3 linked regions of the Homo sapiens genome follow. The protein of the gene in region 1 interacts with the protein of each later gene in a pairwise test. Each region holds a gene or a part of one and is shown in the gene's direction. Other genes may lie near its edges.

What was found.
Region 2: the proteins of LPL (region 1) and SNX12 interact in binary tests that used the Homo sapiens proteins (3 or more experiments, as listed by UniProt).
Region 3: the proteins of LPL (region 1) and PSMD9 interact in binary tests that used the Homo sapiens proteins (3 or more experiments, as listed by UniProt).

The regions. Positions count from the first base shown.
Region 1 is NC_000008.11:19,963,222-19,967,760, forward strand, and holds the end of LPL (lipoprotein lipase precursor), read left to right. Parts: intron 1-2,088; coding exon 2,089-2,089; 3' UTR 2,090-4,038; downstream 4,039-4,539. UniProt on the Homo sapiens protein: Key enzyme in triglyceride metabolism.
Region 2 is NC_000023.11:71,065,313-71,072,850, reverse strand, and holds the start of SNX12 (sorting nexin-12), read left to right. Parts: upstream 1-4,516; 5' UTR 4,517-4,544; coding exon 4,545-4,709; intron 4,710-5,783; exon of another isoform or gene 5,784-5,845; intron 5,846-7,538. UniProt on the Homo sapiens protein: May be involved in several stages of intracellular trafficking.
Region 3 is NC_000012.12:121,898,780-121,905,811, forward strand, and holds part of PSMD9 (26S proteasome non-ATPase regulatory subunit 9), read left to right. Parts: intron 1-854; coding exon 855-1,066; intron 1,067-4,226; coding exon 4,227-4,328; intron 4,329-7,032. UniProt on the Homo sapiens protein: Acts as a chaperone during the assembly of the 26S proteasome, specifically of the base subcomplex of the PA700/19S regulatory complex (RC).

The DNA.
Region 1 (4,539 bases):
GGTCAGGAGTTTGAGACCAGCCTGGCCAACGTGGCGAAACCACCTCTCTACTAAAAATATAAAAATTAGCTGGGTGTGGCGGCACATGCCTGTAATCCCAGCTACTCGGCAGGCTGAGGCGGGAGAATTGCTTGAACCGGGGAGGCAGAGGTTGCAGTGAGATGAGATCGCGCCATTATATTCCAGCCTGGGCAACAGAGAAAGACTCCATCTCAAAAAAAAAAAAAACATGCCTATTAGGAAAAGTATATTAAAGACCCTATGTGTAACATCTTTAATGTTTTTAAATTCTACTTTATAATAGATTTTATACATGTTTACTATAAATAGATTAGGAAAAATAAGCAAAAATAAAATAAAATCACTGTGACCATATCACTCAGAGACAACCCCAATTAACGTTTTTATTTATATTCTTTCGGACTTTATATATACATAATATTTATATGTTTTTCGTCCTTTACAAAAATAGAATTATGGTGTATATACTCTGAATGACTAGATGAGAACATCTGGATCAAAAGCATTAATGTAAGAGCATTCAGGATAAACTCAAAATGGAGAATAGTTAGTGGTATTGAGCCAGGCAAAATAACGCAATTCTTATCTAACTGGAGACTTTTCTTCTAAGAGGTTATTACGTTGTTTTTCCTCATCACAAATCTGAGGCAATATCATACTTTCTTCAGTTCTTAGAAAGAGACTTTTAGATGAAGTTTTTTTTGTTTGTTTTGGTTTTTTTTTTCTTGAGATGGAGTTTTGCTCTTGCTGCCCAGGCTGGAGTGTAGTGGCTCGATCTCAGCTCACTGCAACCTCCACCTCCTGGGTTCAAGCAATTCTCCTGCCTCAGCCTCCCAAGTAGCTGGGATTACACGTGTCCGCCACCACACCTGGCTAATTTCGTATTTTTAGTAGAGAAAGGGTTTCACCATGTTGGTCAGGCTGGTCTTGAACTCCTAACCTCAGGTTATCCACCTGCCTCGGCCTCCCAAAGTGCTGGGATTATAGGTGTGAGTCACCACACCCGGCCCTAGATGCAGTTTTATACATGCATTTGTATTACACATAAATAGCATGCATATTCTGCCAGAGCATCTACAACTTTAAATCTACATGTGAATGTGAAAATAAAACCTCATTAAATTAGTAAATAACTCTAGCTGCTTGTAAAGCACGTCCAGTCGTATTTTTTATATGTTACAAGACTTTATCTGAGAAAGCCTAATGAAGCATTCCTTGTCTGATTATAGGATTACTGACAGAACAGTTATTTAGACAGAGAATGTTCAGATGCGTTTTATTTTTATTTTTTACTTTTATTTATTTTTGAGACAGTCTCGTTCTGTTGCCCAGGCTAGAATGTGGTGGCGTGATCTCGGCTCAATGCAACTCTGCCTCCCGGGTTCAAGTGATTCTTGTGCCTCAGCCTGACAAGTAGCTGGGATTATAGGTGCCCGTTACCATGCCCAGCTAATTTTTCTGTTTTTAGTAGAGACGGAGTTTCACCATATTGGCCAGGCTGGTCATTGAACTCCTAACCTCAGGTGATGTGCCTGTCTCAGCCTCCCAATGTGCTGGGATTACAGGCATGAGCCACAGCACCCAGCCAGATGCATTTTTAAAAACGTACCTGAACTTTATCTAGGAGGTAATTATAAATTAGACTAATAATCTTCTACAGTTTCTTTCTTCTGTGATTAAAATCAATCAAATCAAAGATTCTCTTTCTCACACCTTCTGCTAACTCCTCAGAAACCTCATATCACAAGAAATGAAATGGAACAGGCCTTTCGTTTGATACATTTTAGAATAAGAAATCCTCTAAATTTAGAAGTCATTTGGCCCAGTCCTCCAAAAATGATGCACCTTATTGGGACGGGGCTAAATAGTTGCTCCAGTGTCTTCCATTCCTACAAACCTGCCATTCTCTGATCCATTATACACATCTCCCCTGGGTTTATTCTCACAACCTTTGTTCTGAAATTCCATTTGAAGGCTTTTTCCATCCTAAAACCAGTGGGGGACAGGCGGGAATTGTAAAACACTCAGAAGATAATAAATTGCCCTTTTTCCTGTGCTTTTTCTCAGAAACTGGGCGAATCTACAGAACAAAGAACGGCATGTGAATTCTGTGAAGAATGAAGTGGAGGAAGTAACTTTTACAAAACATACCCAGTGTTTGGGGTGTTTCAAAAGTGGATTTTCCTGAATATTAATCCCAGCCCTACCCTTGTTAGTTATTTTAGGAGACAGTCTCAAGCACTAAAAAGTGGCTAATTCAATTTATGGGGTATAGTGGCCAAATAGCACATCCTCCAACGTTAAAAGACAGTGGATCATGAAAAGTGCTGTTTTGTCCTTTGAGAAAGAAATAATTGTTTGAGCGCAGAGTAAAATAAGGCTCCTTCATGTGGCGTATTGGGCCATAGCCTATAATTGGTTAGAACCTCCTATTTTAATTGGAATTCTGGATCTTTCGGACTGAGGCCTTCTCAAACTTTACTCTAAGTCTCCAAGAATACAGAAAATGCTTTTCCGCGGCACGAATCAGACTCATCTACACAGCAGTATGAATGATGTTTTAGAATGATTCCCTCTTGCTATTGGAATGTGGTCCAGACGTCAACCAGGAACATGTAACTTGGAGAGGGACGAAGAAAGGGTCTGATAAACACAGAGGTTTTAAACAGTCCCTACCATTGGCCTGCATCATGACAAAGTTACAAATTCAAGGAGATATAAAATCTAGATCAATTAATTCTTAATAGGCTTTATCGTTTATTGCTTAATCCCTCTCTCCCCCTTCTTTTTTGTCTCAAGATTATATTATAATAATGTTCTCTGGGTAGGTGTTGAAAATGAGCCTGTAATCCTCAGCTGACACATAATTTGAATGGTGCAGAAAAAAAAAAAGAAACCGTAATTTTATTATTAGATTCTCCAAATGATTTTCATCAATTTAAAATCATTCAATATCTGACAGTTACTCTTCAGTTTTAGGCTTACCTTGGTCATGCTTCAGTTGTACTTCCAGTGCGTCTCTTTTGTTCCTGGCTTTGACATGAAAAGATAGGTTTGAGTTCAAATTTTGCATTGTGTGAGCTTCTACAGATTTTAGACAAGGACCGTTTTTACTAAGTAAAAGGGTGGAGAGGTTCCTGGGGTGGATTCCTAAGCAGTGCTTGTAAACCATCGCGTGCAATGAGCCAGATGGAGTACCATGAGGGTTGCTATTTGTTGTTTTTAACAACTAATCAAGAGTGAGTGAACAACTATTTATAAACTAGATCTCCTATTTTTCAGAATGCTCTTCTACGTATAAATATGAAATGATAAAGATGTCAAATATCTCAGAGGCTATAGCTGGGAACCCGACTGTGAAAGTATGTGATATCTGAACACATACTAGAAAGCTCTGCATGTGTGTTGTCCTTCAGCATAATTCGGAAGGGAAAACAGTCGATCAAGGGATGTATTGGAACATGTCGGAGTAGAAATTGTTCCTGATGTGCCAGAACTTCGACCCTTTCTCTGAGAGAGATGATCGTGCCTATAAATAGTAGGACCAATGTTGTGATTAACATCATCAGGCTTGGAATGAATTCTCTCTAAAAATAAAATGATGTATGATTTGTTGTTGGCATCCCCTTTATTAATTCATTAAATTTCTGGATTTGGGTTGTGACCCAGGGTGCATTAACTTAAAAGATTCACTAAAGCAGCACATAGCACTGGGAACTCTGGCTCCGAAAAACTTTGTTATATATATCAAGGATGTTCTGGCTTTACATTTTATTTATTAGCTGTAAATACATGTGTGGATGTGTAAATGGAGCTTGTACATATTGGAAAGGTCATTGTGGCTATCTGCATTTATAAATGTGTGGTGCTAACTGTATGTGTCTTTATCAGTGATGGTCTCACAGAGCCAACTCACTCTTATGAAATGGGCTTTAACAAAACAAGAAAGAAACGTACTTAACTGTGTGAAGAAATGGAATCAGCTTTTAATAAAATTGACAACATTTTATTACCACACTAAGTCATTATTTTGTATCATTTTTAAAGTAAATTTATTCTTAGGTCAGATTCACTCAGCATATTTTGACTAAGTAACCACTGTACTTAGTAAACCGAAGAGCTTCTGAGAATTATAGTGTACCTTATAGATATTTTTAACATTTATATTTGTATAAAGCTAAAGAAAGCCTTACATATCCTTTAAACTGACTATAGAAGAAAATGATACAGAATTTTGCCTGCATAAAGTACACAGGACTATTCTTGCCTACAATATGCTTTTTCACAAGCAAAATGTTAGACTAATATAAGGCATCTTTGGCCATTTTATAGTGTACATCATCTCTATTTCTGAGGCCTCATTGTTAGCTGTAACGCAAGTAGCATTTGTGCAATAAAATGAACTATTTGGGATGGGAGGGTACATTTTTTAGAACTTTGCTTTGGGTTGCCTTGATAATTAATAGCATATAGTCCATTTATGCAGCTAAGTAGGGATTGCTTCTTAGTACAGTCAGG
Region 2 (7,538 bases), on another chromosome or scaffold:
TACCCTCTACTGTCCTCTTCTTTTCACCCTATCAAAATTTTCCCTCAAAGATCATTTATCATTTATTTACACCTCATTGTGAATTTAACTTGCACAATTCTCCTAGGGCCATTTGATTTTAAGCCTTATCTTGTCACTCACCTATATATTTAACTTTCTATGGAATTGGTCCCTCTAGCTGCTAAACATATTTAAATCTCTCCTATCCTAAAAAACAAATCCTTCTTTGACTATGCATGGCTCTCTAGCTACAACATTTCTTTCTTAGGCAAGTTTCTCAAAAGATTCTCTACTAAATGTTTCCACTTCTTTACCTCTGATTCAATTCTCAATTCACTATGATCTGGATTCTACTCCCAGGACTCTACTGAAACTGTTCTCATTTAAGTAATTATTTAATCTAGTGGACATTTCTCAGGGCTTATCTTATTTGACCTTTCTACTATATTAAACACTATTAACCACCTATTTGCTCCTTTGAGAAACATTTTTATTCGTTGTCTTCAGATCATTATTGTCTTCTGGCTCTCTTCCTACCTCTCTGACCACTCCTTCCTGATCTCCTTCACGAGCTTTTTTTTTTTTTTTTCCCCAAGATGGAGTCTTGCTCTGTTGCCCTGGCTGGAGTGCAGTGGCTCGATCTCGGATCACTGCAACCTCCGCCTCCCGGGTTCAAGCAATTCTCCTGCCTCGGCCTCCCAAGTAGCTGGGACTACAGGCACATGCCACCTCGCCCGTCTAATTTTTCGTATTTTAGTAGAGACAGGTTTTCACCGTGTTGCCCAGGCTGGTCGCAAACTCCTGCACTCAGGCAATCAGCCCGCCTTGGCCTCCCAAAGTACTGGGATTACAGGCGTGAGCCACCGTGCCCGGCCCACAAGCTGTTCTTTTCTGTGCCTGCCCTTTAATGGTTTTCCCAAATGGAAATAGTTTTACATTTTCTGGTTAAAAAATAAATGTAAGTTTATTGTTAAAAAATCAGATCCTTTAGAAAATTATAAAAATATAAAATCCAACTGAAACCCCACCACACAGAGGTAACCGCTGCTACATTTTGGTGCATGTCTTTCCAGACTTTAAAAATTATATATAAATAATTATTTATATATATAAATATATATTTATATATATATTTATATATCTATATATTATATATTTATATATAAATATATTTATATATAAATAATTATATATAATGATATAGATATATAAATATAAATATATAAATATTATATATTTATATATAATATATATAAATATTATATATTTATATATATAATATATAAATATTATATATTTATATATAATATATATAAATATAAATATATATATAAATTAATATATAAATATAATAATTATATATAATATAAACTATAATAATTATATAAATATATAATTATTTATATTTAATTATATATAATTATATGTTTATATTATTTATATATTACATTATATTATTTATAATTATAATTATTTATATTAATTATTATATATAAAATATACATTAATACAAGTGATATCATACTACAATATTTTTTGCCAGCTTTTTTCACTTTTTCATGGACATCATTCTGTATCAACAAGCATAAGAAATTATTTTAAATGGATAGATAGGGGAACTGTAAATTAGGCCATTTACACAAGATAGTGAAATTTATGATGGAAGTGACTAAGATAAAAAGCCTTGTAAAATATAAAATCCACTACCCCTTTATAATACTTGTTATATAAGCAAATTCACAAATTAGAAAAAAAGACTACACAAATATTGCAGAAAATGAACAATTATTTGCTCTTAAAAACAAGAACCTTACACTGGTATCTTTATGTGATTATCTGATTATTTTCTGAGGATAAATTATTGGAAGTAAAACTTTTGAGTTAAAGATTTTGGTAAATAACATTAAAAATAAAAAATACAAAGGCATTATACTTAAACACAGTTAATGAAAAACAACCCTCCCTGCCGTCTGTGACTTCTTTTCTCCAGTTCTGCTCTCCAGAGACAACCAGTATTACAAGTTTCTTCAAGTCAAAGTTTAAAAAAAAAATACATACTGCCAATCTATTTCCCAGAAAGATTGTACCGATTCACATTCCTACCAAAACTGCATGCCCTCACCAACTTTCAAATCTTCTGTCCTTGCCTCTTCATGTTTTTCTTTCTACATGGTATGCTGATGACTCTCATATCTCTATCTCTCTAACCCTGACCTCGCCCTCGAGCTCCAGGCCAGTATTTCCAGCTACTCGCTGGACATCTCCACCTGGATGTTCTACAGACACCCCATATTTATCTAAACTGAACTCATTTTTTACAGATGAGGAAAACTGTTTGTATAATTTGCTCATGGTTATACAGCTAGAAAGCAAGGATTTAAACCCAGGCAGCCTAAGTTCATGGGTCACACATTTAAGCCCTACACTATACTACCACCATATCTAATCACGTACAAGTCGTATCTATTTTATTTCTTCAATCTCTTTCCTATCTCTTCCCTCCTCTCCATTGTCACCATCACCACTTGATTCGGAGTCTTATTGTCAATACCTTCATAATTCAACTTAAATATACCTTCCATGTTGTCTACAAAACAATTCTTCTAAAACATAAATCTGATCATGTATTTTTCCTGCTTAGGATCCTTCAGGGACTCCCTATCACCTACCAGAAAGCTTTGTATCACCTATCATGAAGTCAGAGATCCTTTACTTAATATAAGCGGATCATCCTTTGTCTGCCCATCCCTAGCCAGTCTACCTTTCTAAACACTTCCATCACACAGTCTGAATTGGCGATAAATGCCTAAAAATGCTCCACTGTTTCTTATCGCAAGGACTTTGTGTATTCTTTCTTTCTTTCGCTCTCTCTCTCTCTCTCTTTTCTTTTCCTTTTCTTTCTTTCTTTTTTTGATGGAGTCTTGCTCTGTTGCCCAGGATGGAGTGCAGTGGCATGATCTCAGCTCACTGCAACCTCTGCCTCCCGGGTTCAAGCGATTCTCCTGCCTCAGCCTCCTGAGTAGCTGGGATTACAGGCGTGTGCCACCATGCCCAGCTAATTTTTGTATTTTTAATAGAGACAGGGTTTCACCATGTTGGCCAGGCTGATCTCGAACTCTTGACCTCAAGTGATCTGCCTGCCTCGGCCTCCCAAAGTGCTGGGATTACAGGTGTGAGCCACCGCGCCCGGCCTGCATATGCTGTTTCTTATTCCAGAAATTACCTTTCCCTATTTCCACTCCTATTTGTCCTTTATGTCTTTTCATGTCTGTTAAACTCAGATGTTTCCTCCTCCAGGGGAACCTCCCCTAATTTTTCCAGTTATACATTTCCTATGTGCTGCTTTGAACATTTACTTATTTTGTATTTGTCGCATTATATTAGTTTTGTTTACTTGTCTCCCTTGCTAGAATGTTAACTCCTTGAGGGCAGGGACTCTTATTTAACTCCAGGATTTTAGTGTTTAGCATGGTGCTTGGCACGTATTTGCTTAGTGGATATTGGTTAAATTGAATTAAACAGCAATTGTGAAATTGTAGGGCCTCATACTCTGTTGAAAGAATTTCAGGCATCAGTGATATGGGAAATATTTTTTGAGTAGAGGAGGGCAGGGGAAAGGTGGAGAAAGGATGACCTGAAATCATCACCCAGTCTACCCTTTAATGTGGAGCATATGTAAATTAGTCATATAAATATTAATATTTCTATAGATATTCTCATGTAAACATTTATTCTATCTCCATTATGGGTTGCAAGCAACCTCAGAGCAGTGCCAAGTATGGAGTTCTGCGGAGTAGAAATAGAAGGTATGAAATAAGTACCCTCAATTTGCTGATAAATGTAAGATTGAGTACACCTGGAGTGTGGCAACAAGGAGTAAGATATGCCCAATTTTCCTGAAAAGTAAGAGAGAAATGTCTTTCTTTACCCCATCCTAGTTGCTTGCTGCTTTCCTGGCGCCATACGTAGTGCTGAGTGCGCCATTGTGTGTGGCGTGAACTGAAACCATCAGTGGCACAGGTGGGACGGCTACGTTATAGGTTCTCAGTACTATTGTTGGAACCCCACCCTCCATAGACCACCCTTCTATTTTCGCGGAAAACCAGGACTTATTCAGGTCACTGGGCTTCGGCCTATCACTGTAGGAGCCTGGCTCACGGGGCAGTGCCCACTGTTGATTGATACACGGTACGAGACAATTTCTTGGGTTGAGGAGCCGCGATTGGCGGAGCCAGCCTGTGCTGCTAGGCAGGGTATTGGGTACTGCGTATTGGGGATGCAGGTTCCCGGGTGGCCACAAACATCACCCGGAAGCCTGAATATGGCCTCCACTCTACAGGGCGCGCAGCAGTCAGCACGGCCGCTATTCAGAGCCCGGGGCCCAGGCCCGTGCGGCGTGCGCGTGCGTGCGTGGGCGCGCGTGCGCGCCGCCGCCGCCTGTGGGTTGGCTAGTTATTTTGCAAGCGGGAGGGGCCGTGCGCGCTCCTGCCTCAGGCCTCTGTCCCCCACCCCCTTTCCCCGGTCCCAGGCTCTCCTTCGGAAAGATGTCGGACACGGCAGTAGCTGATACCCGGCGCCTTAACTCGAAGCCGCAGGACCTGACCGACGCTTACGGGCCGCCAAGTAACTTCCTGGAGATCGACATCTTTAATCCTCAGACGGTGGGCGTGGGACGCGCGCGCTTCACCACCTATGAGGTTCGCATGCGGGTGAGTCACGGGGTGAGGGAGACAGCTGAGGGAGGACCGGGCGGCGCGAGCGGGAGGGGGGAGGGAGGCTACCGCGGGGGCAACTAACGGCGGGGAAGACGCCTTAGGGGTCATTTGGGGGTTAGGGGTATAATAGGCTTGGAACGAGGTCTGCCGATTCAGTTGTGGCCGGAGGATGCAGAAAACTCCTGAGGGAGACATCGGACGGGGATGCAGGAAAGCTACCCATGAGGAAGTGAAGCATGGCTGGATAGGGTGGGGTGGATGGAAAAAGATTAGAGTGAGGAATTCAAGGAGATAGGAATCACGGCTGTAGCGACTGAAGGAAGGGAGGGAGGATGGAAGAGGGCTGGGGGATGGAAAGCCAAGGCGATATATCGCTGAGCTCCATAACTAAACTAGGTTGTGAGAAGTCTGAAGAGGGAGGGCAGGAAGGCCGGCTGCTTTCTAATGAGGTCTCCCTGGGATAATGGAGTAAAGCAAAGCCTTGAATTAAAGGGAAGGTAGATTCCAGAAAAGGCAGACAGTAGGCTTGTGGGAGCAGAAATAAGAAAGGGAGTCTCCTTGAGACCGAGCGCTTTCCTAACTTGTGTCGGATCAGCATCTGAAGGAGAGAAATGTTTTATGCTTAAGTTTTCGCAGATACTACGTGCTGTCTCGCCTTGAAACCTGGCCTGGCCCTGGGATTGGTGCCTTGTCAGTCACTGCTTTCATTCTATGTGGATCCTTTAGATTTGAAGTATCCAGAATGTTTATTTCAGTATTTATTGACTCTCGTTTAGGTACTTTGTATATGAATGGCTTTTTGCCCTTTCTGTCCTAGATTACCCTTTTGGATTCTGACCCTGGTCTGTAGTTACTTTAATACATGACATTTCAGAATTGCCCAGGAGTGGCTTCTTCCAGCATGCATGATAGAGGACTTTACTCTCTAGTGCTTAGCCCATAATGCAAGGATGGAATGTGCAGATAGAGTACTTGGTTTGCAGGATCTTTTGCCCACTTGAAGTGGTTATAGGCAAAACAGTTTGAGAATCATTTTCTAGTTTTCCTTATGTTTTCTTCTCAGACTAAAAGGCCAGAATATTCTCTGTGGACAGCATCCTGCTCAAACAGCATTGAAGAACTAAAAGAGTGTATGTGCTTTCATTGTTGAAGGAGTGAATTGAATGAGAAATTGTGGTCTCCTACTTGGGCTTTGAAATCTTATTGAGAAATTATGATTTCCAGATTCCAAGTTTGGCAAAGTCCAAACTGAAGAAAGAAAAGTGAATAGCAAAACATGAGAAACACTTGTCTATATAAGAACTATGTGAAATCATGTCTTTGGGGGAGAATGGAATTTAGGTCCTTCAGAATATGATAAAAGCAGGAAATTGTCAGTGCTGGAGAACTTAGTTACCTGAGGGAGCTTGGGCATGACTAGTACAGCATAAGGGCTGTCTGCTGTGGGGTTTTGGAGACATTCAATGCATTACCCAAGAGTCTTAGGGATTCTGAATGAAATCGCTCTTTACTCAGGGTATTCTTTTTTTTTTTTTTTTTTTTTTAAGAGATGGAGTCTCGTTCTATTGCCCAGGCTGCCGTGCAATGGTGCAATCTCGGCTCGCTGCAACCTCCGCCTCCTGGGTTCAAGCAATTCTCCTGCCTCATCCTCCCGAGTAGCTGGGATTACAGGCACATGCCACCATGCCTGGCTAATTTTTGTATTTTTAATAGAGACGGGGTTTCGCCATGTTGGCCAGGCTGGTCTTGAACTGCTGACCGCAAGTGATCCTCCTGCCTCGGCCTCCCAAAGGGCTGGGATTAGAGGCGTGAGCCACCACGCCTGGCCCTACTCCAGGTATTCTAATAGCAACAGGGACTGTTCATCTAGTGCCTACTGTGTACCAGGCACTGAACTAGGTTTTAATTTGTGTTAATCCTTACAGAACTTCGTTTTACACATGGGAAACTGAGGAGGAATGCAGTTTAAGTAACTTGCCCAAGTACACGTAACTATAACTGACAGGGCTGGAATTTGAACACAAATATGTCTGACTCCATATTCTTTCTGCTACACTTCTGTCTCCTTGACAACACTTAGTAGCAAAACTTTAGCATGCAAAATTTTTCTACTCACTAAACTTTTAATCGGTCCCTTCCACAATTTTTTTTTTTTTCGAGACAGAGTCTCGCTCTGTCACCCAGGCTGGAGTGCAGTGGCATGATCTCAGCTCACTGCAACCTATGCCTCCCAGGTTCAGGCGATTCTCCTGCCTCAGCCTCTGGAGTAGCTGGGACTACAGGCATAAGGCATGGTGCCACCACACCTGGCTAATTTTTTTTTTTTTTTTTGAGATAGAGTTTTGCTCTTGTAGCCCAGGCTGGAGTGCAGTGGCATGATCTCGGCTCACTGCAACCTCTGCCTCCCGGGTTCAAGTGATTCTTCTGCCTCAGCCTCCCAAGTAGCTGGGATTACAGGCATGTACCACCACGCCTGGCTAATTTTTGTATTTTTAGTAGAGACAGGTTTCGCCATGTTGGCCAGGCTGGTCTCGAACTCCTGACCTCAAGTGATCCGCTTGCCTCGGCCTCCCAAAGTGCTGGGATTATAGGTGTTAGCCACCATGCCCGGCCTAATTTTTGTATTTTTAGTAGAGATGGGGTTTCGCCATGTTGGCCAGGCTGGTCTCGAACTCCTGACCTCAAGTGATCCATCCACCTCAGTCTCCCAAAGTGCTGGGATTACAGGTGTGAGCCACCACGCCTGGCCTTGTTTATTCTTTTTTTTTTTTTTTTTTTGAGACAAAGTCTTGCTCTGTCACCCAGGCTGGAGGGCAGTGGCAT
Region 3 (7,032 bases), on another chromosome or scaffold:
GGCGCGATCTCGGCTCACTGCAATCTCCGCCTCCCTGGTTCACGCCAATCTCCTGCCTCAGCCTCCCGAGTAGCTGGGACTACAGGCGCCTGCCATCATGCCCGGCTAATTTTTGTATTTTTAGTAGAGACGGGGTTTCACCGTGTTAGCCAGGATGGTCTCCATCTCCTGACCTCGTGATCCGGCCACCTTGACTTCCCAAAGTTCTGGGATTACAGGCCTGAGCCACCACGCTCGGCCTAATTTTTGTATTTTTTAGTAGAGACGGGGTTTCACCATGTTGGCAAGGTGGTCGCGATCTCTTGACCTCGTGATCTGCCTGCCTCGGCCTCCCACAGTGCTGGGATTACAGGCGTGAGCCTCTGTGCCCGGCTTATGCAGCATTTTTCCTTCTAGAGGATTTCAGAGAAAAGTGAAATCTTGATTACACCCAGCCTGAGTCATTCATTCACATGATCACAGCGCTGGCCCCTCATACATATGCCTTTGAGTTCATGGCTGTGGATTCAGCTGGTTGTTACCTTCCTTCTGCTCACCTCTCAGGGCTCACCCGAGACAGCACTGCCTTCAGGAAGCCTTCCCTCATATCCTAGACTAGCGAGGGCAGACTTTGCTGCTGGCCAGGCCTCCCTGCAGTCATCAGATGTTATTGTAATTACTTATTCTGGAGCTGCTCCTTGCAGGACTGAATGCTCCATGAGGGAATGTCCTCTGTCTTGGTCAGAGACTCCTTCTCACCTCTAGCTCCACATCTGGCATGTAATAAGCACTTGTTAACTCTTCAGTGAATAAATGTAGGAGTCTTGTGTCCTCCACTGTCTTCCTTGGCCCCTGATGTGTGGTTCTCATCCCAGGCCTGCAGAATGATCACAAGGCAGTGATGAAGCAGGTGGAGGAGGCCCTGCACCAGCTGCACGCTCGCGACAAGGAGAAGCAGGCCCGGGACATGGCTGAGGCCCACAAAGAGGCCATGAGCCGCAAACTGGGTCAGAGTGAGAGCCAGGGCCCTCCACGGGCCTTCGCCAAAGTGAACAGCATCAGCCCCGGCTCCCCAGCCAGCATCGCGGTAATCCAGGGGTTGGCCACTCAAGTCCATGCCCAGGGGACACGGTGGGTCAGGTAGCCTTCGGGGATGTGGAAAGACAGACTAGTTCTCTCCGTGCTGCGGTGCTGAGTTCAGTTACTCATTTAACAAACACTGACTGAGGCCTGTCGTGTATCCAGCCCTGTGCTGGGGGCAGAGTTTTAGAGAGGGGTCAGCCCCGGCTGCCCACTACATTGGTGGGGGAGTGACCTCTTCCCAGTGACAGAAGATGATAAATGTCCCAAGAGAGGGAGAGGATCTCTTCTTGGGGCTCATTTTAGCTGGGCACTGAATGATGAAAATGAGAATGGCATCTTGCCAAATGAGTTATGCATCTTATGTGGTGTCTTAAAAAAAACATTAGGCTGGGCACAGTGGCTCATGCGTGTAATCCCAGCACTTGAGAAGGCTGAGGCGACTTGGAAAGCTGAGATGGGAGGATCACTTGGGCTCAGGAAGTCGAAGTTGCAGTGAGCTGTGACTGTGCCACTGCACTCCAGCCTGGGTGACAGAGTGAGACCTTGTCTTAAAAAAAATTTTTTTTTGACCGGGAGCATTGGCTCACGCCTGTAATCCCAGCATGTTGGGAGGCCGAGGCCAGTGGATCACTTGAGGTCAGGAGTTCGAGACCAACCTGGCCAACATGGCGAAACCCCGTCTCTACTAAAAATACGAAAATCATGCCACTGCACTCCAGCCTGGGCAACAGAGTGAGACTCCGTCTCAAAAAAAAAAAAAAAATTTACCCATTTAAAGTCCGTATACAGTTTAGTGTCTTTTGGTGTATTCACAGAGCCATGCATTACCACAATCAATTTTCTTTCTATTTAAAAAATTTGCAGCCAGGTGCAGTGGCTCACGCCTGTAATCCCAGCACTTTGGGAGGCTTAGGTGGGCGATCACCTTATGTCAGGAGTTCAAGACCAGCCTGGCCAACATGGCGAAACCCCATCTCTACTAAAAATACAAACATTAGCCGGGTGTGGTGACATGTGCCTGTAATCCCAGCTACTCGGGAGGCTGAGGCAGGAGAATCGCCTGAACCCAGGAGGTGGAGGTTGCAGTGAGCGGAGATCGTGCCACTACACTCCAGAGCCTGGGCGACAGAGTGAGACTCTGTCTAAAAAAAAAAAAAAAAAAAAAAGGAGATGGGGTTTCGCTCTGTTGCGTAGGTTGGTCTCCATCTCCTGGGCTCAAGTGATTCTACCACCTTGGCCTCCCAAAATGCTGGGATTATAGGCATGAGCCACCATGCCCAGCCATAATCAATTTCAGAACATTGTCATTGTCTTGTAAAGAAACTCTGTAGTGATTTGCCATCACTTCCCAATCCCCCAGCTCCCCGCACCCAGTTATCTACTTTCTGTCTCTATGTATTTGTCTATTCTGGATATTTCCTATAAGTTGAATCATATAATATGTGACCTTTTATGACTGGCTTCTTTCACTTAGCAAATTTTCAAGTCATCTGTATTGAGCATGGATCAGTGCTTCATTTGTTTACAGACAGGGTCTCACTCTCTCACCCAGACTTCAGTGCCATGGTGCCATCATAGCTCACTGCAACCTCAAACTCGCAGAGTCAAGTGATCCTCCTGTCTCAGCCTCCCAAGCAGCTAGGACTGTAGGCACATGTAACCATGCCTGGTTAATTTTTTATTTCCTTTTTTTTTTAGAGATGGGTTCTCACTATGTTGCCCAGGCTGGTCTTGAACTCCTGGCCTCAAGCGATCCTTCTTCCTCGGCCTCCCAAAGTGCTAGAATTACAGGCATGAGCTGTCATGCCTGGCCCTTCATTCCTTCTTTTTTTTTTTTTTTTTTTTTTTTTTTGAGACGGAGTCTCGCTCTGTCGCCCAGGCTGGAGTGCAGTGGCACGATCTCGGCTCACTGCAAGCTCCGCCTCCCAGGTTCACGCCATTCTCCTGCCTCATCCTCCCGAGTAGCTGGGACTACAGGCGCCTGCCATCACGTCCAGCTAATTTTTATTTTTTGTATTTTTAGTAGAGACAGGGTTTCACTTTGTTAGCCAGGGTGGTCTCGATCTCCTGACCTCGTGATCCGCCCGCCTCAGCCTCCCAAAGTGCTGGGATTACAGGCGTGAGCCACTGTGCCTGGCCCTTCATTCCTTTTTATGGCCAAATAATATTCCACTGCCTGGATATATCATATTTTATTTATCCATTTGTCAGTTAATGGACATTTGAATTGTTACCACTTTTTGGCTATTACGAAGCATGTTGCTGCGAACATTCTTGTACAGTTTTTTTGTGGAGATGTAGTTAAATTTAATTCCACAGCCACTTCTGGGATAGGTCCTAATCTTTACTCATTTCATCCTCGAGGAAAAGCCTTGCAGACCTGAAGTAACTTATGTCAGGACACATAGTTCCTGCCAGGTGGAATGGGGTCCTAAACCCTGGTCAGGACACATAGTTCCTGCCAGGTGGAATGGGGTCCTAAACCCTGGTCAGGACACATAGTTCCTGCCAGGTGGAATGGGGTCCTAAACCCTGGTCCTACCAGTCTTCTTTAATGGTCACAAGTCTGTAAGTTACACAGAAGCTCCCTATCATTCACTACCCCATCTACTGCATCTAACCCAGTGCCAGTTGGCCCACAACAAATACTTGTTACAGGGGTGAATGAGTGGTGGTCTGTCTTCTTAGGACCTAGAACAAGAGCGTCACTCTAGTCTTGGATGCGCCCTGTGCCTGTGGCTGCTTGTCTGGGGGCTTCTAGGGCAAGTGTCTTGTCTAAATGTTGATCACTGAATAAAATGGGCCCAGCCTGGCTTGCCTTCTCTTACCCTTGAACCTGGGTTAGGACCGCAGAGAGCAGCATTTGGCCTTTCCCATGCTCCTCAAGGCCTTCACAGTGTCTGGTAACTGCCAGCTCTCAGACATTGGGCAGACCTGGTCATCTTTACTAGAGCTGCCCTCAAAGGAACCCCAGGAGGAGGTGGCCCCGTTACCCACTGCCCCTTCCTGCATGAGGTGTCTACATCCCTGACCTCTTTGTTCTGAGCCTACCCTGTAGAAAACAAGCTCGTGACCTTGGCATTAAATTGGGTATTGAAGGTTAGAGACCACCAGGAGCACACTGAACCTCTAGCCTGATTTTCCATTTTTCCTTCCCTCTCCAGGGTCTGCAAGTGGATGATGAGATTGTGGAGTTCGGCTCTGTGAACACCCAGAACTTCCAGTCACTGCATAACATTGGCAGTGTGGTGCAGCACAGTGAGGGGGTGAGTGGGGCTACCTGGTGTCTCGGTCTGTTTGGGTTTTTCTAACAGTATGCCATAGACTGCGTGGCTTACAAACAACAGAAGTTCATTTTTCACAGCTCTGGAGGCAGGGAAGTCCAAGATCCAGGCACCAGCCAATTTGGTGTCTGGGGAGGGCTTGCTTCCTAACTCCTAGGTGGTGCCTTCTTGCTGTGTCCTCACATGGCAGAAAGGGGAGGAACCCTGGGAGCTCTTGTATAAGGGCACTAATCCCAGTGGGGGCGCCACCCCTCATGACCTAATCACCTTGCAGAGGCCCCACCCCTAATACCATCACATTGGTGGTTAGGATTTCAACATATGAATTTCAGGGGGCCACAGACATTCAGGTCATAGCACTCGGCCTCTGGTCTATAGCCCTGGAGTTACTGGAAGTGTTGCTGAGGCCCTGGACTGCTGCCTTCATGGTGTTGCTCAGCACAGCCCCATTCAAGGACTTGGCACCTGCTATTCCTTCTGTTTAGAATGCTCTTCCTCTTCATCCTCCTTCTGTTTTACACTGGTGACATGCTCGCAGGGGGCCTTTCCTGGCTACCCTAACCCAAATTCCCCTCTCCTCTGCCCTGTCTCTGTTTTCATTTAACAAGGTTTCTTAGAGATCTTTTCTTTTTTTTTTTTTTTTTTTTAAGACAGGGTCATGCTGTGTCACCCAGGCTAGAGTGTGGTGGTGCTATCATAACTACCTCACGGCTAATTTTTTTATATTTTGTGGAGGCGGGGTCTTGCTATGTTGTCCAGGCTGGAATTTTTGTTGTTGTTTTGTAGCAAAGATCCACACTTTTCAGGAGTGATACTGTGGCAAAGCCCAGGAAAATTATTAACTAAAGTTTTTGGTTCCCAAATGAAGTCTCCAGTTAACCCAACAGTTGTGGATTTTTTGACTCCTGCTTAGCTGCACGGTTCATCTACTTGTAACCCATCAGTGCAGGCCAGGCCAGGTCAGGTCAGGAGATGGCTGGCAGTTGCCTATGCCCCTGCTAGTGGTCAGGCCATCGTTTCTGCACTGATACTGTCATCAAATCTGTAACTTGTATGGACGTTTAAAATGATGATTTTGTGAAATTTATCAGTTTTTTTGCTTATGGCTCTTGCATTTTGTGTCCATTTAAAGAAATTCTTTTTTTTTTTTTTAATTAAGAAATTCTTGGCTGGGCGTGGTGGCTCACTCCTGTAATCCCAGCACTTTAGGAGGGCGAGGTGGGTGGATCACGAAGTCAGGAGTTGGAGACCATCCTGGCTAACACGGTGAAACCCCGTCTCTACTAAAAATACAAAAAATTAGCCGGGTGTGGTGGCACACACTTGTAGTCCCAGTTACTTGGGAGACTGAGGAAGGAGAATCGCTTGAACCCAGGAGGCAGAGCTTGCAGTGAGCCGAGATCGCGCCATTGCACTCCAGCCTAGGCGACAGAGCAAGACTCTGTCTCAAAAAAAGAAATTCTTTTAATTCTTTTATTGTTTTATTTCTGTTTTTCCTTTAGTCCATCTGAAATTTATTATTATTATTATTATTATTATTATTATTATTTGAGATGGAGTCTCGCTCTGTCACCCAGGCTGGAGTGCAGTGGTGCGATCTTGGCTCACTGCAACCTCCGCCTCCCAGGTTCAAGTGATTCTCCTGCCTCAGCCTCCTGAGTAGCTGGGATTACAGGCGCCCACCACCATGCCTGGCTAATTTTTGTATTTTTAGTAGAGATGGGGTTTCGCTATGTTGGCCAGGCTGGTCTCAAACTGGCCTCCCAAAGTGCTGGGACTACAGATGTGAGCCACTGCGCCTGGTCTATTTTTATTATTTTTACAACAGTTTTATTGAGATTTAATGCACATACTACACAGTTCACCCATTTAAAGTGGTTTTTAGTGTAGTCACAGAATTATGCAGCCATCACAATTGTACATTTTCATCACTTCTCCTCCTGAGGCAGCCACTTTCCAGCCACATGTCCTTCAGAAAGACTGCTCATATACCAGCACACAGAGCTGCCAGTTGATTTTATTTTATTAAGGTGTAATTTACCTGCACCAGATCCACCTTTTTCAGTGTACAGTCCCATGAGTTTTCTTCTTTTTCTTTTCTTTTTTTTTTTTTAGATGGAGTCTTGCTCTGTCGCCCAGGCTGGAGTGCAGTGGTGCAGTCTCGGGGGGGCTACTGCAAGCTCTGCCTCCCAGGTTCACGCCATTCTCCTGCCTCAGCCTCCCGAGTAGCTGGGACTACAGGCATGTGCCACCATGCCCAGCTAATTTTTTTGTATTTTTAGTAGAGATGGGGTTTCACTGTGTTAGCCAGGATGGTCTCGATCTCCTGACCTCGTGATCCACCTGCCTTGGCCTCCCAAAGTGCTGGGATTACAGGTGTGAGCCACCACACCCAGCCGAGTTTTCTTTTTTTTTTCTTTAAGATGGAGTTTTGCTCTTTTGCCCAGTCTGGAGTGCAGTGGCACGATCTCGGCTCACTGCAACCTCTGCCTCCCAGGTTCAAGCGATTCTCCAGCCTCAGTCTCCCAAGTAGCTGGGATTATAGGTGCCCACCACCACGCCCAGCTAATTTTTTTTTGTATTTTTAGTAGAGACAGGGTTTCAGCATGTTGGCCAGGCTGGTCTCAAACTCCTAACCTCAGGTGATCCACCCACCTCAGCCTCCCAAAGTTCTGGGATTACAGGA